Linked DNA regions of Homo sapiens: all the other regions are linked to region 1. The links come from fine-mapping of genetic effects on gene expression. A gene starts in region 1. Each other region holds a variant in brackets. All regions are shown on one strand. Distances are between the middles of the regions. Region 1 holds the start of PGPEP1 (pyroglutamyl-peptidase I). Region 2 overlaps PGPEP1 (pyroglutamyl-peptidase I). Region 3 overlaps LSM4 (LSM4 homolog, U6 small nuclear RNA and mRNA degradation associated).

The links. PIP is the estimated chance that this variant, and not a neighbour inherited with it, causes the effect.
Region 2: its variant is fine-mapped to the expression of PGPEP1 in whole blood (INTERVAL, PIP above 0.99).
Region 3: its variant is fine-mapped to the expression of PGPEP1 in whole blood (TOPMed, PIP above 0.99).

The regions. Positions count from the first base shown.
Region 1 is chr19:18,339,001-18,341,802 of GRCh38, reverse strand. It overlaps PGPEP1 (pyroglutamyl-peptidase I), which reads right to left and starts at 1,205. Exons shown (of 5, transcript NM_017712.4): 1 at 1,088-1,205. The coding sequence starts at 1,121. RefSeq lists an enhancer at 648-1,335 and a silencer at 1,167-1,356.
Region 2 is chr19:18,367,739-18,370,238 of GRCh38, reverse strand. It overlaps PGPEP1 (pyroglutamyl-peptidase I), which reads right to left. Exons shown (of 5, transcript NM_017712.4): 5 at 289-2,500. Among named protein-coding and RNA genes, the nearest start is that of GDF15, 17 kb to the left of the region's middle. The variant A/G (reference allele first, on the strand shown) is at 1,402.
Region 3 is chr19:18,307,965-18,310,618 of GRCh38, reverse strand. LSM4 (LSM4 homolog, U6 small nuclear RNA and mRNA degradation associated) reads left to right here. Exons shown (of 5, transcript NM_012321.5): 4 at 758-941. Among named protein-coding and RNA genes, the nearest start is that of LSM4, 14 kb to the left of the region's middle. The variant C/A (reference allele first, on the strand shown) is at 1,391.

The sequences.
Region 1 (2,802 bases):
ATCCTTCTGTACAGCCAAAGTTTGAGTCTCAGCTCAGCCCCTTACAAACTGGATGACCTCTGTGAGCCTCAGTTTCCCTTTCTGCAAAATGGAGACAGTAAAGATGTAATCAGCTCATGCAAAAAGTGCTGGAATAAATAACCAGATAAAGGAAGGCTGGAAGGGATGGGGGCAGTGACCCTCCTCCCAATTATACACACCTGTTAAGCAGGTGCCTTGTTTCTTCCTTCTTCCCTGAATCTCCTGGATCAGCCTCAATCTCCCTTCAACAGCCACAAAACACCTGTGTGCACCTTTGCTGGATTTCCCACTCTGACCCCTCCAGACAGCAGGTCAAAATGACCCCCCCACTCCTTGACTCTGAGGCCCCAGCGGAAGTTGGCGCCCCACGTGGCCCCGAGGCGGAGTCTCAGGGAGGAGAAACAGTTGGTTTGGGGGTGGGGGGGAGTCGGTGACAGCAGGGGCCCTGACTCACCAACAAACAGCCCTGGCACAAAACACAAAAAGGTTTCCGCTGAAGACAGTCCCTGGGACAGCTGGGAGAGCCCGAGGTCCCCGGACCCCCACCTGCCCCTGCCTTGGGAGAGTAGCCCCCCAGGAGCGCAGGGCGCGGCGAGCAGTGACTGGGAGGTTCATTTGTCACTGGGACACTTCCTGCCCGCAAATCGGCCTTTGTCCCCTGGGGCCAGGGGTTGGGGGAGCGGTGTGGGGACAGGCTGGACCTCGGAAGGGGCAGGGAGGAAGGGTCCAGTCCAGCCCGCAGGCCAGACAGAGGAGGCAGGTGCCAGGAGGGTCACCATCCCCACCTTGGGAGGAAAGGACGCCAGGGGGGCCTGCGCAGCGCCGGGCTTTTGCCCGGCCCCCCAAGCCCCGCGCCCGACTGCCCTGACTCCCGACCCTGGGACCCCCAAGGCTCCTCCTCCTCCACTTTCCAGGAAGCCTGGGCTGCGCGGGGCTCCCGCGGGTGATGACACCTTCCAAATCTGAGAGGACTTCCAGCACCTGCCCCTCTCGGCCCCGCAGTCCCGGAGCCGCCCCCGCCTCTGCCCCCGGCCGCTGCCGCTACAGCCCCCATCAGCCAGCGTACCCGTCACTACCACCGCCTTCCTCGGCTGCTCCATGGCGGGATCGGGCTGTGCCTCGGACCTGCTTCTGTTGCGACTGGCGCGACAGCTGCTGCCGCTGCAGCCTCTCGGCCGCGCGAGGCCACGCCCCTGTCAAGCCCCCGGCCTCGCCCCCGGTCAGCCGCTCGGCGTGCGCGCCCCCGGGCCCGAGACGCAGCGTGCGCGCCCTGCGCCCCGCCCCCGTCGGCTAGGCCCGGTATTCCCCAGCCTCCGTTTCCCCGTCTGCAAAATGGGAACATCTTATGCCGTAGTGTGTAGCCGCTTGCACGCACTGAGCCAGGTGCTGGGGATGAGCCGGTCCTTTATTCTGCAAGGGTTCATTGAGGGCCTGCCCTATGCATGCATACTGCGCAGAATTAGGGAGGGAAGTCCCCGCGAGCAAGGCCCGTTTTCCAGATAAGGAAACTGAGGCACAGAATGCCACTTCCCCGAGGTCACTCGCCTCAAGGGGTCACAGGAGCAGCATTCAGGCCAGGAAGTTGGCGGGGGTGGGGGAGGACAGAGTAAAAAAGGAAAAACACGACAACCATATTTGTGTGGTGCCAGAAGTTTCTCTGCAGGCCCCCATGGTCCTAGGAGGCTAATGGGGGAGGGCGATTGTACCTGCTGTTCCCTCTGCCGGAACACACCCCGCAGGTACCTGCGAAGCTGGCCTCCTTCAGGCCTCAGCTCCAGTGTTCCAATGTCGCCTCCTCCCAGGGGCCCTCCTCCTGTCCTGGCTGTCACCTCCTCCGAGGGGTGAACTGTCACTTTCTCCTTGTGGCCTTCTCTGGCTATCACCTCCCTGCTATCCTATTACCTCCTCTGAGGGTTCCTTCTGGCCCTCCTTGGCTGAAATGACCTCACTGCTACCCCCCAGTGGTTCCATCTCATTCCCTGGTTCCATCCTCTTCATAGCAATAAAGCTCAGAAATAATTTCCTTTCTCTCTCTTTTTTTTGGAGACAGGGTCTCACTCTGTTACCCAGGCTGGAGTGCAGTGGCAAAATCATAGCTCTGTAACTTTGACCTCCAGGGCTCAACTGATCCTCACATCTCAGCCTCCTGAGTAGCTGGGACTACAGGTGTGTGGCACCACACCCAGCTAATTTTTGTATTTTTGTAGAGATGGGGGTTTCATAGTGTTGCACAGGCTGGTCTCGAACTCCCGAGCTCAAGCAATCCGCACACCTTGGCCTCCCAAAAGTGCTGGGATTACAGGTGTAAACCAGCACACCTGGCCAGAAATCATTTTTAATTTTTTTTAGCTTTTAAGTTTTGGGGTACATGTGCAGGTTTGTTATATAGATAAACTCGTGTCATGGGGTTTGTTGTACAGATTATTTAGTCCCCCAGGTATTATTAAGCAGAAATTATATATGTATTTATTTATTTGAGACGTAGTTTCACTCTTGTCACCCAGGCTGGAGTGCAGTGGTGTGATCTTGGCTCACTGCAACCTCTGCCTCCCGGGTTCAAGCAATTCTCCCACCTCAGCCTCCCAAGTAGCTGGGATTACAGGCGAGTGCCGCCATACCCAGCTAATTTTGTATTTTTAGTAGAGAGGGAGGTTCACCATGTTGGCCAGGCTGGTCTCGAACTCCTGACTTCAGGTGATCCACCCTTTTCAGCTCCCAAAGTGCTGGGATTACAGGCGTGAACCACTGCCTCCGGCCCCCTCCCCAGGTATTATTAAGCAG
Region 2 (2,500 bases), 29 kb before region 1:
ATGTTGGCCAGGCTGGTCTGGAACTCCTGACCTGAGGTGATTCACCCACCTCGGCCTCCCAAAGTGCTGGGATTCCGGGTGTGAGCCACTGCGCTGGGCCAGGCCTCTGATTTTGAGGAAGGAGACCACTGGAGGCAGAATTCCCCTCCTCTCGCTCACTCAGCACATGGTCACCAGCTGCCCTGGGCCCAGCACCACCGAGAATAGAAACCCAGTGACACGGGGTCCCCTCTATCCCCGGGCACCCAGCTGAACTCCAGCCCCACAAAAGGACACACAGGAAATGTATGCGTATTTCAAGTGTTTTATTTGCTTTCTGTGGTGTCAAATTTGGGGTCTCCTAGAGCCCAGCCCCAGGCAGAATCCGGCATATCCTTCTCCGCCTGGGGGGCCCGGGACACAGGAGTTTCAGAAAAGGCACTGGCAAAAGTTCTAGGGCGGGGGTCAGGGAGAAGCCACACTGAGCCTGGAGGGACCGGGCCCTCCTTCGGCGGCAGAAAACACAGTCACCTTTGGCAGGGAAGGGTTTTTTCCTAGAAAGAAATTTAAGACAAGATAAAAACCTGAGATGTTAGAGGAGCCCCCAGAACCAAGCCGGTGCTCCCCTGGGCAGGCAGAGAGTGAACTCGGCTTCCAAAGGCTCAGGGGAGGCTTGCCCGGCCCTCAGCCAGGCTCAGATGCCACAGGCCTTGGCAAGCAGAAAGCCTAATTCAAATCCCTATGTGGAATCTCCTTGAGACAAAGTGTCACGACACAAAACCCCCAGGCCCCAGACCCCACCTCTGAATGGCTTGGGCCAGACGCTGGTCTGGATCGTCAGGAGCCACGGCCACTACCCAGTGACCAATTCCTGTCCCTTTTTGTGTGTTCTGTGAGCGCTGGAGAGGCAGGCACTTCTGTGGGTAACTGGGGGAGGCACAGCGGGGAGAAAGAGCAGGAGGAGAAAGGGAATTTGGGGGAGGGGGAGCAGTTTGGGGTGGGACTGGGTCCCTCAAGTCCTGGGAGTCCCCCCCCACTCAGCTTGTGACAACTGTCCTGGAAACCAGGGGACAGAGTCTCTCAGCAGGTATGTTCAGCGTCCACCCGGGAATTAGCTTTCCAGACGTGGGCACTGGGCAGCGCCTGCCCCTCAACAGCCATTCTGCCAAGGGTCTAAGTGGAACCCCAGCCCTCGGCCGGCCTCCTCACTGCAAAAACGGGGATGCTTTCCCTCCCAACCAGCAGCCCCGGGCCCTCATGAGGCACTTGTGCCCAGGGAAGGGAAATTTAATCCGGATTATAAAAACAAAGCCCTCTCCTGCCCCCTCAAGTTAGGATGCTGAGGATGGGTGGCTGCATGGGGCAACCTGGCAAAGACCTGCCTCCTTGACCATGATCAGCACCCCATGCTGGCCGTCACGC[A/G]GCTCCCAGAGGCCTCAGGATAGAGGCTGGGGCTGCGGAGAATAGGGCTTTGTCCAGCTGTCTCCAAAAGGGACGTCTAGGTTCAGACGCCACAAGAGGCAGAGAGGTCAAAGGCCAACAGTCTAGACAGTGGCAGCCAAAAGGGGGCCAGCTGTGCGGGACAGATTTCCATGAGCCATCCCCCTCCACCTGGTCACCTCCCCAGGGCACTGGAGTGCAGGTGTAAACATACCAGCTGGTCTTGCTTCCTGGAAGAAACTTCCAAGACTAAAAGGCATCTTGAATCTACTTTTCCAGCTCTCCCATCTGCCCCAGAGTGGATACTTTCTGTTCTAGATGTTTCTATGCCAGCAACGAGCAGAAAAGCAGAGCAGGGAATTCTTTTTTTTTTTTTTTTTTGTGACAGAGTCTTGCTATGTTGCCCAGTCTGGAATGCAGTGGCGTGATCTCACACCACTGCAACCTCTGCCTCCCAGGTTCAAGCAATTCTCCTGTCTCAGCCTCCCAGGTAGCTGGGATTACAGGCACGCACCATCCACTCTTGACTAATTTTTGTATTTTTAGTAGAGATGGGGTTTTGCTATGTTGGCCAGGCTGGTCGCAAACTCCTGGCCTCAAGCGATCAGTCTGCCTTGGCCTCCCAAAGTGCTGGGATAACAGGCATAAGCCACTGCGCCTGGCCCCCCTTTTTTTTTTCTTAATTTTGAGGCAGGGTCTTGCTCTGTTGCCCAGGCTGGGGTACAGTAGTGTAATCATGGCTCATTGCAGCCTTCACCTCCTGGGCTCAGATAAGCCTCCCAACTCAGCCTCCCAAGTAGCTGGGACTACAGGTGCTTGACACCACAACTGGCTAATTTTTTTTTTTAATTTCTGTAGAGATGGGGTCTCGCCATGTTGCCCAGGGCTGGTCTCGAACTCCCGGGCTCAAGCAATCCTCCCACCTCAGCCTCCCAAAGCACTGGGATCACAGACATGAACCATCTCCAGGATTCCCCTCCTTGCCGAGAAACTACTGCCATCTGGGACATTTCCTTCACACATCTGGCTCTGATGGGGAAGCTGTGATTTCGGCCCCCACCCCCTGTCCCTGCCCAGCCCT
Region 3 (2,654 bases), 31 kb after region 1:
TAGGAATGGCCCTGGCCCCTGCTAATCCCTCGATCTGTCCCAGTGGGGGCCTCGGAGGCATTGCAGCATGAGTCTGTGTCTTTGCAAGGCCCCCATTTCTCCAGTCTTGGTTAGCTCTCCTAAAACTGGCATCGCTGGGAGCCGCCCTTGAGCCACCCTGGCAGGACCCAAGTCCCCCCATTTCCCGCCCCTCTTCACCCACCACACTAGGCCTGTAGCTTGCTCGCATGTCCCTGCACCCAGCGCAGGCCCTGTCAGGAGATACTTAGATGAATGAATGAGTCAGGGCATGTAGAGAGGCTTCCAGAAGTGAGGTGGGGCTGGGGCAGGAGGAGGAGTAGCTGGGCTTCGGCTGTGTCTGGTGCACAGGGAGGCCCCCACCCGCTCTGGGCTTTGGGCTGCAGGTGAAGAACCCCAACCAGAGAGAGCCCCATCCCAGGCTGGAGGGAGCCCCAGTCAGCCACTCCTGAGCCAGGCCCACGGGCAGAGGATAGGAGCCAGTCTTCCTTGTGAGTGCACAATGGGGGCTGCGCCTACCACACCCACCCTTGCTCCTGGGTGAAGGATTGCCTGGGGTCAGGACAGATCCTGCCTGCAGGGTGGACCCTTTGCCACGTATGTCCCGGGACTGATACTGTGCAGCTTGCAGGGGTGGTACGGGGTGCAGGCTGGGCAGGATCTGCAGGGCCTCCCGCGCTCCCAGGGCTGGGCCAGACGGCCCGGTGGTAAGTTAATAACCTGCTCCCCTTCTCCGCAGGACGGGGACAAGTTCTGGCGGATGCCCGAGTGCTACATCCGCGGCAGCACCATCAAGTACCTGCGCATCCCCGACGAGATCATCGACATGGTCAAGGAGGAGGTGGTGGCCAAGGGCCGCGGCCGCGGAGGCCTGCAGCAGCAGAAGCAGCAGAAAGGCCGCGGCATGGGCGGCGCTGGCCGAGGTGGGTCTCCCCTCTCCAGTGGACGTACCTGGGGCGGGAAGACAGCCACACGTGGCATCCCTCCTTCTTGGGGTTGCCCTTGCAGCGCTGCCTCGGAGCCTCCCAACCCTCCCGGGCCCCCCTCCTGGTCCTTGGCCATGAGCCGAGGCCCAGGCAGAGGAGCCCCGAGACCTGGGACTCAGCCCTCCTCTCACTGCGCCTCCTGGCGGTCCTCAGGGCACATCAAGTCACCTCCCCAAGCCTCAGTTTCCCCTCTGAGAGGGTATGGTGGTGCCCATCTGTCCAGGCCGCTGGCAACTCCACTTGGAACCTGGCGTGGCTCTATCCAGAGCCAAGGTCGCCCGCCCCCACCGGAGATGATGAATTGGCATAAAATTCCATTTGTTAGGCCCAGGGGCCATCTGTAGCCCCTGCCCTTCCTCACCTCTCTGTCCCCAGCTCTGTGTTCT[C/A]GGGGGGACCTGGGCTTTGCTTCTGCCATCCATGGGCACTGCCTGTGTGCTGGGCTCAGGTGCCAGCCTGGGGGCTTGCAGCACGGCATGGCTGCCCCCGGAAGGCCCCAGGCGCCAATTCTGTGCAGGCTCACGAGGTGGTCAGGAGTGAGCCCGAGGGAGGGGCAGGGATAGTACTCCAGGCAGGGAGCTTTGGGGATCTCAGGGTGGGTGGGGCCTCTGGGGTCCCCGGCCTGGCTCCTTCCCAGTAGTTGGGGTCAAGGTTGTTGAGAGAGTGGGTCGGGTCCTACCTAGGGAAGTGGGGGGTTTTCTCTGGCTGCTCTGCAGGAAGCCACTGGGCCATGGAGTGCAGATAGCAGCCTCGCAGTAACCCCCACCAGGCTGTGCACCCTAGCACAGCTGGTCCTGCCTGGTGAGAGGGGAGGTTGGTGGCCCAGGCCAGCGTTGGCCTCTGGCCTCTGTCCCCACAGGGCCTGGTGGCCCCTGGCTGGTGAGAGCCCTGACCTCTTAGATCCTCTGAATCTGGACCCCTGACCCCACCTTCACGGGGTTGAGGTCTGCAGAGTAGACCGTGATTCCAGTTCCTGTTGGGGTCAGTCCTCCTGTCCCCAGACCTCCCTGGCCCACGACTGAGCCTCCCAGCGGGCTCTGTGGAGGGCCTGAGCTATGCTGCCTGCAGCGCTGGCCTCTGGCCCCTGGCACCCAGCACATGGGCCACAGGGCCAGCTCCTCTTGCTGGCCTTGGCTCTCCTGCTGTTTGAAGCTCCAGCTTTGATTTCCTCAAGCGTTCGTCCAGCTAGAAAGTTCTCTGAAACGGCTCCCTAAACGGGGCTTACAGAGCTGGGGTCCCCAAGGGAGACAGAGAGGGAGGGATCAATGTTGGGTCCCGGCCTGACCAACCTGCTGCGTCCAGGCCTGGCCTGTGGTGAGGGTGGCGTGAAGGGGCGCCAGGCACACAGAGGGTGTGGGGACAGGCGTGCCCTGCGTGCAGCCTGCTCAGGATTACTGGAGGTGCCGCTGTAGCGTCCACTCAGTCCCTGGGGCCCTCATCTCCCGGGAACCCCCTGTCACCTCCCCAGTGGCCACATGCTCCCACCTCAGGGGCTTCATGGAAAATGTCATTTGTCCTCATGGTCTATCTCTGGCCTCAGGCCTGCTGGGGAGTCCCCTCCCCTTCCCCATCCCTGGGGCTGGATACACAGAAATCCCTCTTTCTGTTTTCCTCCTGGCAGGTAGATGAGGGGCTGTGGGTGGTTGTGGCGCA